Regions from separate parts of the Homo sapiens genome. Here regions 1 and 2 are each linked to region 3. The links come from fine-mapping of genetic effects on gene expression. A gene starts in region 3. Each other region holds a variant in brackets. All regions are shown on one strand. Distances are between the middles of the regions.

The links. PIP is the estimated chance that this variant, and not a neighbour inherited with it, causes the effect.
Region 1: its variant is the best candidate, but not a certain one, in a credible set for the expression of AXDND1 in testis (GTEx, PIP 0.75).
Region 2: its variant is the best candidate, but not a certain one, in a credible set for the expression of AXDND1 in hippocampus (GTEx, PIP 0.69).

The regions. Positions count from the first base shown.
Region 1 is chr1:179,520,486-179,528,669 of GRCh38, reverse strand. It overlaps AXDND1 (axonemal dynein light chain domain containing 1), which reads right to left. Exons shown (of 26, transcript NM_144696.6): 22 at 3,223-3,336; 23 at 239-343. Among named protein-coding and RNA genes, the nearest start is that of NPHS2, 51 kb to the left of the region's middle. The variant C/T (reference allele first, on the strand shown) is at 3,950.
Region 2 is chr1:178,513,718-178,521,901 of GRCh38, reverse strand. It overlaps TEX35 (testis expressed 35), which reads right to left. Exons shown (of 9, transcript NM_032126.5): 2 at 7,825-7,875; 3 at 7,134-7,202; 4 at 5,987-6,043; 5 at 5,228-5,287; 6 at 1,466-1,530; 7 at 1,028-1,229; 8 at 638-680. Among named protein-coding and RNA genes, the nearest start is that of TEX35, 4.7 kb to the right of the region's middle. The variant A/G (reference allele first, on the strand shown) is at 3,325.
Region 3 is chr1:179,362,274-179,370,457 of GRCh38, reverse strand. It overlaps AXDND1 (axonemal dynein light chain domain containing 1), which reads right to left and starts at 4,487. Exons shown (of 26, transcript NM_144696.6): 1 at 4,458-4,487; 2 at 3,852-4,054; 3 at 1,486-1,658; 4 at 380-483. The coding sequence starts at 3,948. RefSeq lists enhancers at 4,087-4,156, 4,537-4,936.

The DNA.
Region 1 (8,184 bases), 160 kb before region 3:
ACTCTGTCAAAAAAAAAAAAAAAAAAAAGAGGTTTAAAGATGAGAATGAGAAGCTTTTGTAAAGTTACGGTGAAAAAAGGAGTTTTCCAGGAATTATGTTGGAAGAAAAATATCTGTAAAATACATGACTTAGGAATCCCTGGTCCCCTTAGAGTAGCTAAAAGTTATGTTAGCACCATATCATTTTTATGCAATGTTAAATAGTGTTGAATTCCCTAGCTGGGTTTCAGATACATACCCAGGAAGACAACACATCTGTTTCAAATAGAGGTTTGGAATGAACATTTTCATCTTCTCCAATGAATCGAATGAGTTTTTCCTTCTCTGTAGATGTTGAAGGTTGCTAGAACACAGAAACATGCGGACCTGTTAGCAAGCTGGTGTAGCACCCCAGCAAGTTTCCTGGCACGGTAGCAAGTTTCCTGGCACCATGTTGGAAGCTTACATTTTCCATTTCCTTTAATCACACAACAAGAATTTTTGAAGACTTTCACATAGCAAACGCTGTGAAAAACTGGTAGGATGGGGAGTGTGGACAAGGGGATATAACTATGGGAAAAACAAAGAGGATTTCTTCCAGCTTCCAGGAACTGACAGTACTATAGGAGAGATAGATAATAAAATGAATAATTATGGTATAACATGATTACTGTTAGCATAAAAGTGTGCTCCAAGGGCTGTGCACACCCAGAAAAGGGTCATGCCTTCTTCCTAGGTACTTCAGGAATTATTAACAGAGAAAGTGATATTTAAAGGCCGAACAGGTGCTTGTAAAATAGAGAGGACAGGGGCTCAACTAAGTCTACAGGTGGTAGTAGTAATAGCAGTAGTTGCAGTAGTAATGGTTTTGTTACCAGAAAAGGGGTCTTATCCCAGACCCCAAGAGCAGGTTCTTCGATCTCACACAGGATAAAATTCAGGGTGAGTCTCAGAGTATAGTAAAGTAAAAGCAGTTTACTAGAAATTACTCTATTACAGAGTTGGGTATCCTCAGAAAGCAAGAGGAGAAATGCCCTTAACATAAACATAATGCTTGCTTATATAGGATATTAACACTAAGAATAGTGTACTTTATTATAAAGGCTGGTGATCAGCTTGTGACAGGCTATTAGTATTATTATTCTCTAGTGTAACTGTTGACTTCAGCAATAATTTATGAGTATACTGTCAGAGACGTATGAACCAGAAAAACTCCATCTTAAAGAGTAGCTGGGTACAATGAGGCTAAAACCCACTGGGCTGCCTCCCCAGATGGTTAAGGCATTCTAAGTCATAGGATGAGACAAAAGGTCAGCACAAAATACAGGTCATAAAGACCTTGCTGATAAAACAGGTTGCAGTAAAGAAGCCGGTCAAAACCCACCAAAACCACAATGGCCACAAGAGTGACCTCTGGTTGTCCTCACTGCTATACTCCCATCAGCGCCATGACAGTTTACAAATGCCATGGCAATGTCAGGAAGTTACCCTATATGGTCTAAAAAGGGGAGGCATGAATAATCCACCCCTTGTTCAGCATATCATCAAGAAAATGGGCAACCAGCAGCCCTTAAGGCTACTCTGTCTATGGAGTAGCTGTTCTTTTATTCTTTTACTTTCTTAATAAACTTGCTTTCACTTTGGACTGCAAACTCGCTCTGAATTCTTTCTTGTGCAAGATCCAAGAATCCTCTCCTGGGCTCTGAATCATGACACCTTTCCTGTAACAGTACCATTATCTTTAAAGTGAAACCCATTTTTAAACTGAGAATGCCTTTTTCCATTAACTCGTTTCCTCAACCATAAACATCTTGTGACTAAGAGTGTCCAATTTCCTGGGAAAGTAACCCAGTAGGTTTTGCTTTATCTGGACTTTATTCAAGATGGAGTCACTCTGGTTAAGACACCTCTGACAATTTCCATTTATTCTGTGCCTTCTACATACCAAGCACTTTACCAGAAATAAAACAGAAAATGCTGATTGAAATAGGCTTGGGTGTTATATAATATTTTTGTTCTGTTGTCCTGCCTGTGCAGTGAGTAGAAGACCTATTTCAGAGCCTGGAGTCATGCCAACACTTAAACTATATACAGAGAAGAAATATATCAAAGAAGTAAATCAAGACATTGTAGAGAGTGTTAGGCAATCATGAGTTCTAGGAAGCCAAAGGCAGTAGTAGTCAATCTAAGAATTAGCAAGGGGTCTTGTGCCAGACTTAACTGGGTTTGAATATCGGTTCTGCCACTTACAGCTATATGATTTTGAGTAAATCAGTCAACCTCTCTGAGCTTCAGTTTTCTTATCTGTAAAATGGGGGCAATAATATAAACCTTGAAGTTGTGTTGCATAGATAAGAGATAATATGTGCAAAGTATATCACTCATGATAGGCACTCAATTTTTGGTAATCATCGTATTATTATTATTATTACAAATGTCCCAGGAAGGGTTTTTATTACTACAAATGCCCCTGCGGGGGTTGAGACGGGGTAAAGAGAGGAGAGGTCTGGTGATGGGCCTGGGAGGAGGGCAAAAGGCAGCTCAGAATGGGAGCTGAAGAAGTAGAAATATGGAGTTTTAAAGTGTTATCTGAAAAAATGTGGCAATGAAGGGCTAAAAAAATAGTACCAGAGTGAGAAGTAGATTGTGTAGTTAATAGGAATAAAAGTATAAATGAGGCTAATGGGAAATGGCTGGATTTAGAAGGGAAAAGGAACATTCCCTTCCTCTGAAAATAAAGTGACAAAGATAAATATTTCTGCAGGTTTGGCTAAATCTATATGAGGAAAAGAAGGAAACTGGAGTTCACTCCAGACCACCTACTTCTATTCTCCACTGTCTGTGTGTGTCTATAATTTTCCCCCCACTATATATGTCTGTGTATATATATATATATGGTCCAAGCATGGTGGCTCATATCTGTAATCCCAGCACTTTAGGAGGCTGAGGTAAGAGGATCGCTTGAGACCAGTTCAAGACCAGCCTGGGCATAGCAAGATCCCATCTCTATAAAAAAAATTTTAAAAATTAGCTAGGCATGGTGGTGCATGCCTGTAGTCCTAGCTACTCAAGAGGCTGAGGCAGGAGGATCATTTGAGCCCCAGAGTTCGAGGTTACAGTGAGCTATGATGATACCACAGCACTCCAACCTGGGTGACAGGGCAGGACCCTGTCTCTAAAATATATGTATGTATGTATGTATGTATGTATGTAGGAGGAAAAACAAATACCAAATAATCTTACTTCTTCTGCTCTCTCTTTATTTTCCTCCTGAAGTTTCCTATCCTCCTTACTTTCTTCTTCATCTTCTTTAAAAGACTCGTCTATTTCAGGCTCAATGAATTCTTTTACAGCCTCCTGTGAGATGAACCAATATTATGATTAAAGGGTGTATATAAATATTAGCAATTATTTGTTCAAAATATTTAATGAGCACTAATCCTGCAGCTGGGTACTGTGCTAGTGACAAGGATACAAAGGTTGATAAGAATAGTCCCTGTCCTTAAGAAACTTATTAATTTCACGGACAAGAAAATACAATGAATGCATACATTCACATAGTAGGAGCACCTAATTTAGACCAGGTAGTGGACTGGGTAAAAGAGGGAGTTGGTTAGGAAGGTTTCCTGAAGGAGATAATGTTTGAGTTTTTTTCTTGAAGGATGGGGAAGGAAAAGAAGCAGCTCTGGGCAGAGGATGTTCCATGCACATGATTGGATCTGAGAGAGCATAGTTCAATAGGACAAAAACTGGGAGACAAATGAATAGGAGTGCAATCAGAGAGAAAGGGCTAGACTGTCAAGCCAGGGAGATGATTGGCTCTTATCCTGAAGGCAATGAGGCTCTAATAAATTGGTTGATTTGCTTTGCATTTCAAAACAATCATTCTAGCAACAGGAGAATAGCTTTAAAGAAGAGGAAGAAAGGGAAGCAGAGGAAGAGAAAAGGAGCGTGAACAAAACAGTGGCTG[C/T]GGGAATGAAGAGAAGGAAAAGGAGGATTTAAGAGATATTTAAGAGGCAAGTCCTAGTGATTGACTGGATGGACACGGGATGGTTAGAGAAAATGTGCATCTTGAATGACACTTAGTTTACAGTTTAGACCACTAGAGAGATGACAATGCCATTCACAGAGACAATGAACAAAACTGGATAAATAGGTTTGGAGAGAGAGATGAGTTCAGATTAGGCTGTGAGAGTTGGAGGTACCACTGAGATACCCAAGTGAAAATACCCAGCAAGAAGGTGAATATATGGATCTGGAGTTTAAGATGGAAGAATTTGGGCTAAAAATAGAGATCTGACAGTCATCTGCCTTTAATTAAAGCCAAGAAAGTAAATTATATCCTAAAGGCAAACTTGTGAAGTAGCCAGAGAATTAGACAGTAACCCAGTTACATAAAATGCTAGGGATCTATGGAAAACAGTGTAGTGATTCCTTAAAGAACTAAAAGTAGATCTACCATTTGATCCAGCAATCCCACTCCTGGGTATCTACCCAGAGAAAAAGCAGTCATTATATGAAAAAGATAATTTTACATGCATGTTTATAGCAGCACAATTCACAATTGCAAAAATATGGAACCAGCCCAAATGCCCATCAATCAATGAGTGAATAAAGAAAATGTGGTATATATACACCATGGAATACCACTCAGCCATAAAAAGGAATGAAATAATGGCATTTGGAGACTGTTATTCTAAGTAAAGTAACTCAGGAATGGAAAACCAAATATTGTACGTTCTCACTCATAAGTGGGAGCTAAGCTATGAGGATGCAAAGCCATAAGAATGATACAATGGACTTTGGGGATTCAGGGGAAAAGGGTGGGAGGTGAGGAGGGATAAAAGACTACACATTGGGTACAGTGTACACTGCTTGGGTAATGGGTGCACCAAAATCTGAGAAATTATCACTAAAGAACTTACTCATGTAACCAACTATGACCTGTTCCCCAAAAACCTATTGGGAAAAAAAAAGGAATGATGTTCTGATGCAGGCAACAATGTGGCTGACCTCTGAAAACACTATGCTAAGGGAAATAAGCACAAAAGGCCACATATTATATAATTCCATTTACATGACATGTCCAGAATAGGCAAATCCATAGAGCCAGAAACCGTGTGGTGTTTCCAGGGCCTGAGAAGAAAGGGGAAATTTGAGTGACTGCTAACCAGTATGGATTTTCTTTTTGGGAATGATTAAAATGTTCTGGAATTCAATAGTGATTATCACTGTACAACTTTGTGAATATACCACAAACTATTACTGAATTGTACATATTACATGAATTGTGTCTCAATAAAGCTGTTATTTTTAGAAAAATAATTTGGCCACTCCACATTGTACACATACTTCAAAACATCATGTTGTACACAATAAATATATACAATTTTTATTTGTCAATTAAAATAAATAAATAGGAAATTGCTGCCTCAAAAAAAAAAAAACAAAAACAATCAGATGAAATCAAAAGCCTATACTCAAGGAAAACAATAATAGATTTTCAAACCTCTGAAAAAAATAAAATGCTAGGGAAGAAAGAGGAGCCTGAAAAGGCAGCCAGAAGTAGCCTCTGAAGTATGAGAGGCCACGAGGAAAGCCAAAAGAGAAGAAAGAAGGAGTCATCAGTATTGAACACCTCAAAGGAGTCTACTCATATAGATTTAAAAACATCCTCTGGGTGTTTACAGCAGCAATATTTATAAAAGCAAAAGCTAGCAATAAGCTCAATGCCCACAATAGGAAAATGCACAAATAAATTATGGTGTAAGCCATATAACAAAATACTTTATAGCAATGTTAAATTATGCTATAGAAATATGTGTACAGTATAGAAAAATAGTCACAATGTGACTAAAAAATTAGGATATTTTTACAAAATGAAAATACTTTTTTTCTTGATAACATTCTTGCTATAAAATATTTGAACACTACAGAGGAATTAAGAATCTTAACTCTCAGAGTTAACAATTTTTATCATTTGCTGAATATTCTGCTAGACTGCTTTTTGCATCTATAAACATTTTAATATAAATGAGATAATATATCTTATATTCTATAATCTGCTTTTCTCAATAATATATCATGGATTATATTTATTTAACTACTTAAACATCTACTTTATCTGCATAGAATTCCATTATTTCAATGTACCATGTTGTATTTAACTAATCTCCTACTGATCAACATTCATATTGTTTCTAGTATTTTGCTATTATACTATGCTGTAATAAACATTCTTATACAGATACATCATATATTAGAATTATCAAACAGACTACAAAAGTTATACTTAACCTATTTAAAGAAATAAGAGATTGAAAATATGAGCAAAGACAGAAAGATTACAAAAATGATGAGACTTGAAAAAGAATCAAATAGGACTTCAGCAATTTAATTTAAAAACTCAACAGAAAGGTTTAATGGCAGATGAAATTCAATTGGAGGGCAAATTAGTGAACTGGATAGTAAGCCAGAAAAATTATTCAGGATGCAATGCAGAGAAATAGAGAGAGAATATGAAAGAAGGTTAAGAGACATGGGGGATTGATTCCAACACACATTCATTTAGAGTTCTAGAAGGAAAGAAGAGAGCAAATGCAGTAGAGGCAATATTTGAATAGATGACTGAGAATTTTCCAGATCTAACAAAAGATACCAAATTAAAGATTCAGGAAATCAAGAGAATCCCAAGCAAAATTTAAAAGAAAAGAAAATCCATCTCCACATTAATCAGAGCAAAGACAAAAAGACGACCTTAAAAATAGAGAGAAGAGATGAATTCACTTCAAAGGAACTGACAGCTGGATTCTCAATGGTCAGTTCAATAACAACAAAATCCAGAAAACAGTAAAAATAATAACGATGTGCTGAGAGAAAAGAATACCATCCCAGAATCAATAGCATACCCAGCAAAAAAAAAAAAAAAAAAATGTAAGAATGAGGGTGAAATAAAGGCATTTTCAGACAAACAAAAACTGAGTTTGCCACCAGGATATCTTCACTAAAGAAAATTCTACAGGTTAAGGTAGAAGACAAATGACCCAAGGTGGATATCTGAGACTTTTGAAGAAAGAACAAATAAATTAAATTATAAATCAGCTCCAATGCCAGCATATTTCTTAAAGGTAAATCACTAAAGGCATTCCTGCTAAAGTCAGAAACAAGAAAAGGATGCTTGTTATCTCCACTACTATTTAATATTGAATTAGAAGAATTATTCAATATAATTAAAAAAGAAAAAGCAACTAGAAGTATCAGAATTGAAAAGAAAGAGGTAAAACTATCCCTATTTGTAGGTGATTTGATTAAGTATCTAGAAAACCCCAAAGAATCCACTGAAAAACTACTAAAAACAGTAAGAGGAAGAGCAGCAGGAGGAGGAGAGAGAAATACAGTAAGAGAATTTAGTAAAGTCACAGCATATAAAATTAAAATAGGAATGGTGGTGAACATCTGTAAGCCCAGCACTTTGGGAGGCTGAGGCAGGAGGATCACTTGAGCCCAGGAATTCAAGCCAGCCTAGGCAACATAGCAAGACCCTGTCTCTGCGAAATTAAAAATTAGCCAGGCATGGTGCCACGCACCTATAATCCCACATAGTCCGGAGGCTGAGGTGGGAGGACTTCTTGAGCACAGGAAGTCAAGGCTGCAGTGAACCATAACTGGACCGCTGAACTCCAGCCTGGGTGACAGAGTATGATCCAATCTCAAAAAATAAAACAAAATTAAATTAAATTAAATTAAAATACAGAAATTGATTATATATATATAGTCTGTATATATATAATATATATAAATATGCTGTATATATATATAACTGTATATATATATACAGTTACTAGTTAGAAGATATAATGGAAAAGAATGTCTCATTTAAAATAGCAAAAAATAAAATATTCAGGCATAAACCTAATAAGAAACGTACAAAATAAGCAAACAAATAAGATATGATTTAAAGGCATAAAAGTAGACATCCTATATTCCATATTCTTGGATAATACAATTCAGCATCATAAACATGTCTACTCTAAGTTAATATATAAATTTAATATTATGCTAGTTTTAAAAAATCTTATTTTTAAGAACTAGCTTATAAAGTTATATAGAAAAATAGCCAGGTGCAGTGGTGCATGCCATAGTCCCAGCTACTCTGGAGGCTGAGGCAGGAGGATCACTTAAGCCCAGGAGTTTGAGACCAGCCGA
Region 2 (8,184 bases), 850 kb after region 3:
GGAGTCTGAAATACACTGATATAGAACCAAAAATAATCAACCTCCACACACTCAAGTTTTGGACTGGTACTCAAAACCATGACATCCCCTTTGGCTTTGAATGAAGGTTTTTAATCTCCAGTGGAGGCCTGGGGTTGGGGTGGTATTTAACAGGACAAGAAGCCCTGACTGTGCATCTTAAGGAGCTTGGAGGTGATGAATCGGAACTGCTGGTAGGTTCTGCAGCTGCGCTAGGTTGGAAACACATATTCGATGTCACCGGGGTTGAGGTACAGATAAATCAGAAGGCAGCTCCAGAAGCCAAGGGTGAAAAGGGTGCCCAGACCTGGTGTGAATATTTCCCACTGGATGGGGAGAAAGGGCAGGACCTGAGGCAAGGTCAGTTCCGCCACTAGTGGTGCACCCTCCCCACCATGGGAGCCCCAGGCAGCAGCCTCTAGGCTGGGTGACCCAAGTCCTCCTTCCTGGTGCCACATCCTGTATGACTGAGCATGCTGGGTGGCAGCATCTGCTAACAGTCCCTACTCCTGGCACAACCTCAGGAGGGGTGTGATGTGAATGCGGCTGGGAGCACATGGCCTTGGGGACAACAAGGCACCTGATCGAGAAAAGGCACATCTTGTATGAATCTACCTACCCCGATTGTAGTTGTTCTTTAGAGCACACAACAAACATTTCTCCTGCAGAGGACAGAAACGGCACAAGAAAGATCAATTTCCCCTGGTCCAAGAAGGGCAGCCTGCTAGGCACCTTATCTGCCCTTGCTAAAGGGAAGGACAGAATAAGAGGGTGGAGCTGGCGGGTAGGCCCATCCAGGGTCAAGTCCTGCATGGTCACAGCTAAGGAGGCTCCACAGGCCTAGAAGGCAAGGCAGGTCAGGGAGGGCGCAGGCTCGGGCGGCACCCAGAAGTCAGCAGCGGGCGGACCTGTCCCTTCACTATGATACAGCACAAGCTCGGGGAAGTCACCAGGGAGCCGGAGCCAGGGGTCTGGCACCAGTGCTGGGCTCGGGCAGGGTTTCACTTACGCAGCAGGTCCCACAGTGATGAAGGGGATCCAGTGAGCCCTGTTTTGTTTTTTGTGGTGCCATCGTCTTCTTGTGAAGAGCACAGGGTGCTCCATTGACTCCACTGGCTCCATCCATTTTCTTGGGCCTGAGCTGTGGTTCTCTGTGAGTCTTTCCCATCAGCCTGAGTTCCTGCTGCTCCTTTGGTGCTCTTCTAAGGGGACTGGGGGAGGAGGGCCAGGGAGGGGCAGAGAGTTGGGGAGACATTTTGCAGCATGACAAGGAGATAACCAGTACACGGGTGGCCATGGAAGGCCTTGACTCCAAGTCACAGGGGCAGTAGGAGCAAAGACAACTCCTCCAAGAGTCTGGGTGTCCTCTGAACCCCAAAGGGATCCAACAAAGGGAAGGGAGGAGACCCTTTAGGGATGAGGAGAGACGAGTGCAGGTTACACTTACAGCTTATAGTTCTTCTGTGTATTTATTAAAATGTCCATCTTCTCATCCATATCTTTCTGCATTTCCTTCGAGAGAGAATTCAGAACTAGCATCTTCATTTTGAAGGACTTTGGAAATACCTTCCTCCTGCCTCTCTGCAAACCATTCTGCATCTTACTTCCTCAAGAATCCTCGCTAGACTTGGGTGAGGTGGCTTTTGGAGTGTCCGTGACATGTACAGCTTCTCCCCTTCCTCATCCCCCTTCCCCAATGAGACGAAAGCACAGGCAGAGACATTAGGGGACTTTTCTGAAGTCTCTAGGTGAGCCAGAGGCCAGCTACTGTTTTATCTGATCTCACACTTTGGATAAAACCAATGCTTGCCTTGGTTTGATGCCTATAAAATGATGGAACCAAGAAGACCAATCTTGTGACCCCAAAGACAATTTGACTGCAATGTTTTGACCCTTGGCATGCACCCAGATCCTGCATATTTATGTTTGCTTCATCTTTTACCTAATTCCTGGCAAAGATGGTCAACAAAAAGTAAAATGACAGCAGCTAAAGGGATACATCACACGTATTATTCGCTCAGAACAGAAGGAATAATAAAATCTTGACAAAGTTTTGATCTATAAAATGTGACCTGGGTAAATTGAATGGAAATAGTGGACATGAGAAAAATTCTAAGATGGTAGAAGCTATAACTGACAATATTTGTCACAGAGAAAAACAGGTTTGGGTTGTCATAAAACAGAAATAAAAACAATTTATTCCAATAAAATAATTTTCATTAAAAATGAAAGATTTGGTAACAGTTTAATTGATGTACTATAGAAAATTGATCAAGAAATTACACCATCTGCATAGAGATGATTTCATAAAATACCTTCTTGAAAAGCATTTTTAAATGTTAGTACAAATTTGAATAAAATATTTGTATTCATAGAGTCAAAATATCCTTGAAGTCAATGTCCCCTAGGTCCAAAACATCAGAGTCAAAATGTCCCATATTCTTACACGTTTCACCAACATGTACCCCTTCAAAATCATCATGTTCCAAACTGATTTCATTTTCCCAAGCTACCTCTATCTCCCCACTGTCATTGTCATCGTCACCACTTTCTTTTAATCAACCAGATTAAAATTTGGTGTCATCACGGACGCTTGCCTCTCAAGACTTCAGTCTCCATATTGAATCAGTCACCAGGAACTGTTATTTTTCCCTCAGTGCATCTTTCAGATTTATCTCTTCCTTCTTTCCCTACACCTGGTCCAGCTGTGGTGTTCTTGCTGTCAGACATCTCCACCTGCTCCCTGGGCCCCACCCAGGCCGCCTTGCAAACAAAACCTGCCGGGCTAAGCTTTTTGAAGTGCTCCTCCCAGAATGTTCTTTGATTAAGAATCTCCAGAGGCCTCTTGCTGCTCACAGAACCAAGTCCTAGCTTGTCTGCATGTCTTTCAAAAGCCATCATTACCTACAGCCTTTGTGCCCATTCATTTTTTTTTTCCCTCACAGTTTCCCCCAGTGGTCCCACTTCATGACTGATCCCCGTGCTGACCACCATATACAACATACTCCTCCTGCCTCCTGCCCTGCTTAAGGGGTTCCCCTGCCTGAAATCGCCTCCTTTGTGCCTTTCCATACCCAGCCTCCCCACCAACAAAACACTTAACTTTGTTTGGATTTTAACAGAGAAATAATTAATGCATGCCCTTTGTAGAAAATTTGGACAGTACAGAGGGATATAAAAGTATGAATATTCTCATCCAGAAATAACTGCTATGAACCCCTTTGGTATATTTCTTTCCAGTCTTTTTTCTATATATTTGCTTATTTTTTTTAACCTAGCTGAGATCAGCCTATGTATATTACTTGT[A/G]TCTTGCTTTTTTAGTTCTTATTATAAATATTCTTTCTAAACATTGTCTTTAATAGTTCCTAACTTTTATTATATAAGTATTTCATAATTTATTTGGCCATTCCCCTACTGTTGAAAATTGAGGTCGTTTCCAAATTTTTATTATTACAAATAATCCTGTCATGAACATCTTTTTATGTATACCCATGATGGCGTTTCTGATTATTCTCATAGGTTAAATTCTAAGAAGTGAAATTGACAAATCAAGAGGTTGATTTTTTTATATCTATTGTCTAACAATGTTCCAGTTTTGTACAAATTTGCACTCTAATTAACAGTATAAGAGCATTTATATGTCTTATACTGTAATTGTAATAAATTAAAATTTTGCTTGAGTGTAACAATAATTGATTGTTCATTTGCATGTATTTAATTATGAGGTCAGGCCTTTGTTAATATGTTTATTGCTTTTTAGTTATATTCTCTTCTGTGGATTGTCTGTTCACACTCGTCTATTTTCCTACTTAGTTCTTATTGATTTATGTGAACTTTATATGTTATGGATAAAAACCTTTTTTCTGTGCTTATATTTTTGGAAAAATGTTCCCCCAAACAGTTTCTTTAATTCTGTAAATGTAAGTGATTTTTCTGTCATAATTCTTTTAAAAAAATCTTACATAGTTAAATATATCAATATGTCCTTTGTAATTTCTTCCATTGTATTTATATTTAGAACTTCTATTTACATATTTACTTAACATTTCTTCTTATTGGTTTTTATTATTTAAAATCACTTCATAGACTATTTAGCTTTACAGTGTTAACTGGCTTAAGTTTTTTCTTCATATAGTCAAGCAATGTTTCTAATATTACTACCTAATCCTTTCCTTCTGACTGACATCAAAAAATCACCTTTATCATATTGTAAATTCTATAGAGCTGTGATTCTCAACTTGAGTATACACTGGAATCACCTGGGCAACTAAAACCCACTGGCGTCTGGACCTCATTCTAAGAGCTTCTGACTTAATCGTTATGAGGTGTAGCCTGGATGGGGAGGGCATAGGTGAAAGGCTTTCCAGGTGATTATAATGTGCAGCCAAGGTTAGTAACTGCTGCTAAAGTGTTTAGGACCTGGTTCTCATCCACAGGCAAGCATCTGAATCTAAACGGAGTTTTAAGCAACTCCGGCCCACCCTGGAGATTTTTATTCAGTTCCTCTGGGAAAGGGTCTAAGTAAATGGAGTTTTAAAATTCTCACAACTGATTCTCATTACATCCCAGGCAGAGAGGCTGTTGAGGCGTTATCTATCCCATTTCATTCATGTGTTTGGTTATCGTTGGGCTGATTTAATAACTTTGTTTTTATCGTGAATTTTAATATCTGGTAAGGCTAATGTCCCCTTACAACTCTTGAAAAATGGGTACCTATTTGCTTTTGCCAGCTTATGCTTCTCAGTCTTTCCCCTGGGAACTTGTCTAAACTACAAGGGCCCAGCACCATCTGAACATGAGCCCAGGCTCTGTTTTATTAGTGTTCCAGGTGATTCTGAAACACACCACATGTTGTCAATCACTGCTCTAGAATCTAGATCATCCTAGTAATTTTTTGAGTTAAAAAAGAATCTTACTGGGCTCTTGATGAGATTTGCATTAAGCTTCCCATGCAGTCTTCAAGGCTCAACTTGAGACTCACTTTCTCTGTAAGGACTTCGCTGCTTACTCCAACCCGCATTCATTTCTCATGTCTCTAAGCCCCTAACTAGCAAACAACGAATTAATTATTTGGCTTGCAATGCTTTCTTGCAATGGAATATGGGACTACTAGTAGATAATAAGCTCCTGGAGGGCAGGGTCTGCTGGTGTCTCTTCCACAGTTTCCAGTATGGTACTGGCCCATGGAAGGCACTCAAGTAATGCTTACCTTCATAATTTCCACAAATTCGTGAAGTTTATCAAAATCCTTGTCCATTAGATCCTTTATCTAACAAGGAAGAAAGGCATGGCTTGACAAAGCACAGAGCATGTTATTGAGGTTAGTTGTGGCATCTTTCAGGCATTTTAAGCAAAGGGCAGTGGCTGCTTCTCTGGCATGGACTAATAATGGCCTGTTAGAGCCACTTTCTTCTCAAGGAGTCTGTGAAGGGACTAGGGTGCAAGCACCATCAAGTCACCACCACCATCAGCCTTGGCACGGCTTAGATCTGGCTACTGCAAGACTGCATGTGGAGCTTGAACCACAGCTTCGATTACACTTTCTTGCTCGATTATTCGCTTTTTTCCTAAGGATGCTACAGGTGGTTGGTTGGTTGTATCATAGAAATGAGAGGTTTCCTGCTTTGCAACTTGCTCAGGGGAAGTGAATAAGGAAGATGGGGTTGGTCCCTGACTTCCCCTAAATTCATATTCCAAATCAGCCCCTCTTACTCAGCTTCATCACTAAGGTGACATCACCCACCCTTACCAAAGAGACACTTTAGGGAGTCCTCAGTCACTCAAAAATTGGGTTTAGGCATCAAACAAGTAAGAAGTGAATAACCTAATACTGAAGTGCTCTGGGTATTAGGACTGAGTTACATTTTTCCATGCAATTCCTGCTTTCCTTCACTATTCAAACTTAAGGATTGCATTTTTCCTGAAGCTACACTTTCCCTCCATGATATGGAAGGCCTCATCTTCTTACCTGTTTTATCTCCTCCATTTTCTCCTTGAGCTCTTCTCTCACTTCCCTGAGTTCATTCTGAGGAAATAAAATGGAGAAGAGAAGGAGGAAAGAAATATCTAGGATGGAGGGGAAACCATCAACAGGAGGAAAGGAAAGATCCTGGGACACTGTCAGAGAAAAGCTTTCAATAGGGAGGAAAGAAAAGATGTTGTTGAGACAATAGGATAGACCAGGTGCACTGGCTCACACCTGTAATCCCAGCACTTTGGGAGGCCAAGGCGGGAGGATCACTTGAAACAAGGAGTTTGAAACCAGCCTGGGCAACATAGCGAGACCCCCACCCCCATCTCAAAATTAATTAATTAATTAATGTTTTAAAAAGACTATAAGATAGTGGGACCTACAGGCATCATGTGTCTCTGCCAAAAAATGCACAGCCTGAATCTCATCATGAGGAATCCAACAGACAAAGCCAAATTGAGGGTTATCCCACAACATAAGTGATCTGTAATCTGTAAAAATGTCAATGTCCCCAGACGAGGTGCAGTGGCTCAAACCTGTAATCCCAGCACTTCAGGAGGCCAAGGCAGACAGATCAGCTGAGGTCAGGAGTTCAAAACCAATATGGTGAAACCCTGTGTCTACTAAAAATACAAAAATTAGCTGGGCATGGTGGTGCACGCCTATAGTCCCAGATACTCGGGAGGCTGAGGCAGGAGAATTGCTTGAACTTGGGAGTTGGAGGTTGCAGTGAGCCTAGATCATGCCACTGCACTCCAGCCTGGGCGACAGAGGGAGACCTTGTCTCAAAAAATAAAATAAAAATAAATAAATGTCAGTGTACCCAAAGAAAAAGAACTGTTCTGTTCCAGATTATAGAAAAGACACCTGGTAATTCGAGGCAATGTGTGATCCTGGATCAGACCCTAGACCAGAAAACGTCCCCTTTCTGTTGTTATGCAACACATGTGTGGGACAACTGGTGAAATTAGAACAAGGGCTATAGATGAGTATTGTCTGTGTGTTAACTTCTGGATTTTGATAATTGCACTGTGCCTATGTAAGAGGATATTCTTGTATTTAGGAAACAGGCACTGAGGATTTGGGGAAAACTTACACTCACGTGGTTTGGAATATAGACATGCCTCCAAGTTCACGCACTCACCTTTAGGTCCTGTGTCACTCCTGCTTTGGTAAACCGCCCTTCTTGTTTAACTGCTTTGTAATCAAATGTCTGTGGATTGAAACAGGAACACAGACCTTTGGGAATTGCAGATGGGCGGTGGAAGTGCAGAGGCAGAAGAGATCCCCCTGTGTTTCTGTTCCTCCCTTAGGGCTAAGGCAAGAGGAAAGCTGGTGGCCCCACCTGTGCAGAAGGTTCCTCTATCCTCCTCCCTCTTTCAGCTCATCTTGTTCCACTCCCCTGCTGGCCCACGGGGCCTCAGCTCCTTTTGTCCCTTGAACAGCCAGGCTCATTCCCACCTTGGGCCTCAGTGCATGCTGCCTCCTCTGCCTAGAAGGCTCTTACTCTGCCTTTGCAAAGCCAGAGTCTTGTCCTTCAGCTCTCAGCTCAAAGGAAGGCCTTTCCCTACCACCCACTCCACGGCAGCCACTCAGACATGTCTCCCTGTCTTGATTCCCAGCAGAGCAGGTAACACTGCTGAATGAGTCCTTGTTCGTTTATGTATCTGATTGGTTACAGTGTGAAGTTCTATGAGAGCAAGAACTCTCAGTGCATCCCCCAGCACCTGGGACAAATCTTGGCCACTAGGATCAGCAAATGACCCCTGACTCCTGGTCACTTCCCCATGGATCTCAGGCCTGGCTGCCTGCATGGCCTCAAAAGGGCTTCTTACTTTGGTCGGCTCTGGCTTCAATTCCAGGCAAACTGCCTTGTAGTTCTTGCTCTGCAAAAAGAGGAGACTGAGATTCAGGCTGGCAGACATCAGGATTGGGGAGGAGAACATCTGGCCCTTGCACGGGAACCCTGCCCCCTGCCCCCCACAACCATGCAACCCTGCCTGTCCAACTGGCTTGAGCTCAGGCTCACAGACCCCGCAGCACCCGGATCCGATTCCTAACAAATCACATCTTGTCGTGCTGTCCTCTTCCTATGGGCGTGTGTCTGCCTATTTGGCAGGCAGCCCTCTCCCTGCTGGAGGCGCCAGCGTGGAGAAAGCACTTTAAGATAACTAGAAGCAAGCCCCGGAAGTGTT
Region 3 (8,184 bases):
TCTTCTAAAGATGTCCACAAAGAAGACATACACACAGATAAAAGGAGCACTAAAGGCATTCTGCCTGTTGGATCTTGTCCCTTTTACTAGGGTACAACAGGGAATAGGAGAGTATAGGGACAAGTATACAAAGGCATGCAAAAAGCAAATTTAAACCAAAAATATGTAAAGCCAGCACCTATTTCCATCCTACTGATAATAATCACACACAAAAAGATGGTCTTTGGCCCTTCTGGATTGTATTCTGATTCAAAGATACTGTAAATTTTATCATCTATGATTCAGTGATTTTTCTAATTCTGCCCCTCCCAAGGTAATCATTCAAAATGAGAAAACAACTCTATTTATCAGCATCTATCCTACTATCTTCCTTCTTTACCTTCCAGCTCCTGTGAGGGAGACGGGATGGTCAATCAGGTATTTGAATTTATTCCTTCGAACAGGGTGATGCCAGACATGGTCTACAAGGCGTGGAAGAGTGCCCTGGGAAAAAGCAAATACACATGAATATCCAGCAGAGGGCGATCTAATCAAATAAAATGTATTAATAGTTTTGAGTAAGTACTGTATTTACATTAAGGGCACTTGGGTACTCTAAGGAAAAAAGAGAGCAGAATTCTTATTAAATGACATAAAGACTAAAACTAGAATAATTCTATAGTGAGTGAAAAACATTAAGGGTAGCAATTATCATTTTAGTAAATCCACATAAAAACAGGTCAATGGAAATACTCAAGCCTTGGAAACAATTTATACAAAAGACTGGAGTTTTCAATCTAAGAAATTATTTTAAATTTTTTTTTTTTGAGACAGAGTCTTGCTCTGTGGTCCAGGCTGGAGGGCAATGGCGCAATCTCGGCTCACTGCAACCTCTGCCTCCCGGGTTCAAGTGATTCTCCTGCCTCAGCCTCCCGAGTAGCTGGGACTATAGGCGCATGCCACTATGCCCAGCTAATTTTTGTATTTTTAGTAGAGACAGGGTTTCATGATGTTGGCCAGGATGGTTGATCTCCTGACCTCGTGATCTGCCTGCCTCAGCCTCCCAAAGTGCTGGGATTACAGCCTAAAAAAATTTTTTAAGGCCAGGCATGTTGGCTCACACTTGAAATTCCAGCACTTTGGGAGGCTAAGGCGGGTGGATTGCTTGAGCCCAGGAATTTGAGACCAGCATAGGCAACATGGCGAAACTCCGTCTCTATGAAAAATACAAAAATTAGCCAGGTGTGGTGGCACAGACCTGTAGTCCCAGCTACTCAGGAAGCTGAGGTGGGAGGATCACCTGAGCCAGGGTAGTCGAGGCTGCAGTGAGCAATGATCAGGCCACTACTCTCCAGCCTGGGCCACAGTAGTAAGACCCTGTCTCAATCAATCTTAAAATTTTTAAGGCTATCTGGAATATATAATATGTGCATAATAAATACTTAAAGAATAATCAGATGCCCAAAAAATAATGTTCCCCATTACTCTACATATGTACATACAAACCTTTGGGGTTTTAATTTTCTTAGGAGGTAGTAAGTTTTCAGGACAAGGACCAGCATTGGCCGCATAGGTCAGAGAAAGAAGAACTTCTTTGGGAATGAACTCATTCTGAAGGGAAGTAGGAAGGAGTTTTGAACGATCCACCATATTTTTTTTCTCCTTTAGCTCAGGAAGTCCTAAGTAAGTAGTGGAAAAGAAAAACTCTTACTATATATTTTTTTAAGTTAGATGGAGCTTCTCAGACTGCCTCATCAATCCCATCTGTTTCTAACAGAGAGAAACATTGCTTCTATTTGACAAAGATAGTAACAAATAATATTGAAAACAGTGAACATCATCTAGTCAAGGAAAATAACATTCATCTTGCCTACCCTACTCACATTACATCAGACACAGTTTCAAAAACTCAGGTACCAAGATGAACCTGCATGATTCTCAATTCAAAGTTGAAAACTAAACTCATTTCACTTGCTCAGGTAACTGGGAGAGCCTTAAGAAGACAGGAATGAATGTCTATTTTCCCTTTCATATGAAAATCACAAATCTCTCCCCCCAAGCTGTCAAATTATTTAGTAATTTTTTTCTTACATGAATTCAAAGGTGAGAATAATTGCATTAAATCGAGGCATTTATAGAGTGGAAAGGCTCTGGGTTGGGCTTAAAAGTAAAGATGGAACTGGGATTGTTGCAAATGAGAGTGGAACAATCTGAGCTGACAAATCTGTGGAATGGGAACTGTAAAAAGAGTGTTCTACCCTGCTTGACTAGGGCAGGGGAGTAATAAAGGCAGGTAGTTGGGATAATGTAGGAAAAGCCCTCCTATGAAGTCAGTCAGGTAGGGTTGAGTTGTTATTCTTCTTAATCTATGCCTGTAACATGGTATGGTTTATGTTTATTTCTATAAGGAGGTATCATGCTTTGATTACTATCAAAAGTTGTTAGGGTTTACATTACCAAATCTCCTGAGAGCTTGAGATCAAAAGAAACAGAAGAAAAAAAAAAAAGTTGGGTGGGGCTTGGGGTTTTAGTACAAGGTGCAGGTGAGATGGGAAAAGCTTTAACAGAACCGGGTAAGGATAACACTAGCTGACTCTAGTACAGATCCGCATATGAACGAAAATCTTAAGGAATTGCTCTCATTTAGAAAAATTACTAAAAGCTAATACAAATTGGCACATTGTACTAAATTGAGTTTCTCTTATCTCTGCTATTACTTTTTGTTTCTTTATTTACTTATTTGAGACCAAGTCTACCTCTGTTGCCCAGGCTAGAGTGCAGTGGCAAGATCTTGGCTCACTGCAACCTCTGCCTCCCGGGTTCAAGTGATTCTCCTGCCTCAGCCTGCCGAGTAGCTGGGATTACAGGCGAGTGCCACCACACCAGGCTAAATTTTGTATTTTTAGTAGAGACCGGGTTTCACCACGTTGGTCAGGCTGGTCTCAAACTCCTGACCTCGTGATTTGAGACGGAGTCTCGTTCTGTCGCCAGGCTGGAGTGCAGTGGCGCAATCTCGGCTCACTGCAACCTCCACCTCCCGGGTTCAAGCGATTCTCCTGCCTCAGCCTCCTGAGTAGCTGGGACTACAGGCACGAGCCACCACGCCCCCCCTAATTTTTGTATTTTTAGTAGACAGAGTTTCTCCATGTTGGCCAGAATGGTCTCAATCTCTTGACCTCGTGATCCGCCAGCCTCAGCCTCCCAAATGGGATTACAGGTGTGAGCCACTGTGCCCGGCCTATTTATTTATTTATTTTGAGATGGGGTCTTGCTCTTGTCTCCCAGACTGGAATGCAATGGCTCGATCCTGGCTCACTGCAACCTCACCTCCTGGGTTCAAGCGATTCTCTTGCCTCAGCCTCCAGAGTAAGCTGGGACTACAGGCGCGAGCCACCATGCCCGGCTAATTTTTGTATTTCTAGTAGAGACGGGATTTCATCATATTTGGCCAGGCTGGTCTCGAACTCCTGACCTCAAGTGATCCGCCCACCTCGGCCTCCCAAAGTGCTGGGATTACAGGCGTGAGCCACCGCGCCCTGCCTCACTATTACTTTTTCCAAAGTTCCTTAAAGCCAAAGACCAGGAACCAAAAAATACGTAACTATTGATATTTAAAATAGGTTGAATTTAAAATCATATATAAATCAACATTTGAAAAAAAGTATAAACTGTATTTAGATGGAGTAGTGAAACAGTACTCTGACTCAAAATACTGTAAAAGGAATGACTTCTTGCTTTATTTAAGCAAGTGTGTTAGAAAAATGTAGCCAATCAAGGTATTCTGAATATCAGATTTAAAAAACCGGTGAATGGAAGGTGATTTCTGTCTTACGGCCATGACTGTTTATGACTTCAGAATCAACGAAGTTTACCTCTTGTCCCTTCCTTGGCTACAGACACTTTTAACTTTTTGCTCTCAGATGTTGATGTAGAGTTTAGCGGGGTGGAGGGCGTTTTCGGGAGAGACATAATAAACAATGCCTCCTATCTCTTTAGTAATTTGAAATAGTCCTCCGGAAAGCTAATTTAGACACAAATCAGCGCCGCACTGGGACTTGCAGGCTGCCACATAGTCCTGCAGGCAGAGGAAAAAAGATTTAAAAAAAAAAAAAAAGATGACAACTATTGAGTACTTAGGTTCAGATCGCAGTTTAGAATTCATCTAGCATGGTTCTCCTTCTTCGGGGCGACCTCTATGTTCTGGGGTTATGTGTAGCGACTAAGAAGCCTTAGTGGACCGTCAGGTCGGGGTCAAGGAGCAGGGCAGGAAGGACCCGCTCGGCGGACCCCGCAGACCGCCGGCACCCCTGGTGGGGGACACTCGCTGCAGGCGGCTCGGCTGGGGACCATACCTTCCCCACAGGCAGCGCTCTCGCGCGCCAGTTCCACAAACTCGCGAGTTGGGCAGGCCTCGCACTGCTTCTTGGTTTAAAATGACGGGAAAGGGACACCCGCGATCCTACCCACACATTGCGTACCCGCCCAGCATCCGCTCACTTCCTCCTTTGCTGGAACGCCTGTTTGTCGTCATAGAAACCCAGGGCCCCGAGGTTTAGCGCCCTCCATAGGGGCTGCCTTCAGCGGTGCCGGCGGAGGAGGGAGACAGCTAAGACAATCCCTACACCCTCTTGGAGTTTCTTATGTTCTAAGTCACAGCATAGGTTCAGTAGCAAAGGAGAAGAAAAACGTTTAATCCCGCCGTTGTCACGGAATCCGAAAGTGTCTCACGCCGGGGCTTCCTGCCGCGGGCCAGGCCAGTGCGCAGGCGCCGGTGGGGGTTAGCTCGAGGGGCCGACCCCTGTAGCCCGTGACGCACGCGGGTTAAGCAAGGGTCTTCTGAGTTGTTTCCATCTTTCTAGCTCTCTTTTTTGTTGCTTTGCATATTTTTCTTTCTCTTTCTTCCTCTTTTTCTTTCTTTCTCTTTTTTTCCCCTGAGACGGAATTTCCCTCTTGTCGCCCAGGCTGGAGTTTAATGGTGCGATCTCGGCTCACTGCAACCTCCACCTCCTGGGTTCAAGCAATTCTCCTGCCTCAGCCTCCCAAGCAGCTGGGACTACAGGCAGACGCCACCATGCCCGGCTAATTTTGTAGTTTGTTTTTTGTTTTGTTTTGTTTGAGACGGAGTCTCGTTCTGTCGCGCTGGCTGGAGTGCAATGGTGCGATCTCAGCTCACTGCCACCTCCGCCTCCCAGGTTCAAGCGATTCTCCTGCCTCAGCCTCCCGAGGGACTACAGGCGGGGGCCACCATGCCCGGCTAATTTTTGTATTTTTAGTAGAGACGGGGTTTCACCATATTGGCCAGGCTGGTCTCAAACTCCTGACCGCGCCCGCCTCGGCCTTCCAAAGTGCTGGGATCATAGGCGTGAGCCACTGCGCCCGGACGCTTTGCATATTTTTCTAAAAGCCAGACTCAGGGGGATGTTGGGTAATAAGAAACGCTGGGTCCCTTATTGGGTAAGCCGTCCAGTGCTTTACATTTCGGTCACGTCTTCCTTGGACCCTTAAATGCCTCCCCCCAGAGCACAAGGAAGGCCTCCTGGGCCCAGATTTTTCACCCCCTTGGGGCAGGGAAGGAGGATTGAGCTTAGGTGGAACCAGCTCAGGTATAATTGTCGGGGCTTCTGGCGTGAAAATCTGCCCTCAGGAAAGAATACCATCAGCGGCCGGTGGCTCACGCCTGTAATCCCAGCACTTTCTTAGGCCGAGGCGGGTGGATCACGAGGTCAGGAGTTCGAGACCAGCCTGACCAACATGGTGAAACCCCGTCTCTACTAAAAACACAAAAATTAGCCAAGAGAGGTGGCGCGCGCCTGTAATCCCAGCTACTCAGGAGGTTGAAGCAGGAGATTCGCTTGAACCGGGGAGGAAAGGGTTGCGGTGAGCCGAGATGGCGCCACCGCACTCCAGCCTGGGCAACAGAACGAGACTCCGTCTCAAAAAAAAAAAGAGTATCATCAGAGCCTTCGCACTGAACTGAGGCTCGGTTCGGTGAGGGATCATTTCTTTTCTTTTCTTTTTTGAGACGGAGTTTCACTCTTGTTGCCCAGGCTGGAGTGCAATGGCTCGATCTCGGCTCACCGCAACCTCCGCCTCCCAGGTTCAAGCGATTCTCCTGCCTCAGCCTCCCTAGTAGCTGGGATTACAGGCATGCGCCACCACGCCCAGCTAAATTTGTGTTTTTAGTAGAGACGGGGTTTCTCCATGTTGGTCAGGCTGGTCTCGAACTCCCGACCTCAGGTGATCCACCCGCCGCGGCCTCCCAAAGTGCCGGGATTACAGGCATGAGCCGGATCGTTTCATATTAAGGCAGAGATTTAGTGCCAAATAATGAATCGCTGGGAGAAGCCCAGCGTCTAGTTGCTTCCAGACAGGGAGGAAACTTTATCTTATTCAATCACCATATTCCTTAGCACCAAGTAGAGTGCCTGGACAAACATGAAAATCAGTTGGACAGTTCTCTTCTGTGTTGACAGAATTACGGCTATTTTCTGGTTTTGAGTGTAATAGCTGTGAGAAATTCGAGCAAAGGGTTCAAAACAAGTCTACATGGTCCCTTTGAACTCTTCCGATCAAACATGTTGGGTGTGTTAGCATTTTAGCCTTTAGCCTTATCTCCCATTACCCTAATTTTTCAAAGAATTAAAATACACATAATAGCATTATAGAGCACACAAAATTATCCATCTTTTGTATTCTTAACCTAGTTCAAAAAAATCCAAGTACAGTATTAAGAAAGCAGATAGAAATAAGTGAACACATTCTAGAAAAACACATAAAGTATAATCTAAAGGATTTAGGAAGTGATTAGATCTGTGAGACATCAAAGGTCTCTTTTCTGTCTTGTGCTGTGGTATGGTGATCATACATAATGTCAGAGGAGTTTGAACCATAGCAACTCCATCTTGAATAGGCACTGGGTAAAATAAGGCTGAAACCTACTTGGCTGCGTTCCCAGATGGTTAAGGCATTCTAAGTCACAGGATGAGATAGCAAGTCATAAAGACCTTGCTGATAAAACAGGTCGCAGTAAAGAAGCCGGCTAAAACCCACCAAAACCTAGATGGCCACGAGAGTGACCTCTGGCCGTCCTCACTGCTATACTCCCACCAGCGCCATGACAGTTTACAAATACCATGGGAATGTCGGGAAGTTACCCTTTATGGTCTGAAAAGGGGAAGAATGAATAATCCACCCCTTGTTTAGCATATCATCAAGAAATAACCATAAAAATGGGTAACCAGCAACCCTCAGGGCTGCTCTATGGAGTAGCCATTCTTTTTTTCTTTATTTTCCTAATAAACTTGCTTTGCACTGTGGACTCGCCCTGAATTCTTTCTTGTGCAAGATCTAAAAACTCTCTCTTGGGGTCTGAATCTGAACCCCATTTCCTGTAACAATACAATTTACTAAGACTGGAAACAAAGGAGGAAGACCAGATTTGGAGGAGGGCTTTGGAGAAGGATACGTTTAGGACTGTGGATATATTAAGTTTGCAGTAAGATTGAGATATCTGGATGGGAATGAAAAGTAACTATTTGATTATACATTAATACATGGGTATGAAGCTCTCGGCAAAGGCCTACGTTAAAGTTGAACGGATGAGGCAGGGCGTGGTGGCTCATGCCTGTAATCCCAGCACTTTGGGAGGCTGAGGTGGGCAGATCATTTGAGGTCAGATAGAGACCAGCCTGATCAACATGGTGAAACCCTGTCTCTACCAAATACAAATACCAAATACAAAAATTAGCCTGGCCTGGTGGCACATGCCTGTAGTCCCAGCTACTCAGGAGGCTGAGGCAGGAGAATCGCTTGAACCCGGGAGGTGGAGGTTGCAGCACCATCGCACTCCATTCTGGGCGACAAGAGTGAAACTCCCTCTCAAAAAAAAAAAAAAAGTTGGATGAATGGCTGGGTGTGGTGGCTCAAGCCGGAGTCATCCCAGCACTTTGAGAGGCTTAGGCTAGAGGATGGCTTGAGGCCAGGAATTCGAGACCAGCTTGGACAACGTGGCAAGACCCCATCTCTACAAAACAAAAAGAAAAAAGTTAATAGATGAGGCATAAACAAAAACAATACAATAAGACTATAACTATCAAAAAATACAATTGCTACTTATAAGGTAACTCCTCTCCTAATTTTTAATTATACCAAGAGAATCCTAAAATGGAGTAAAGTAAAATACTATTAAGGTCTTTGATGGAAAAT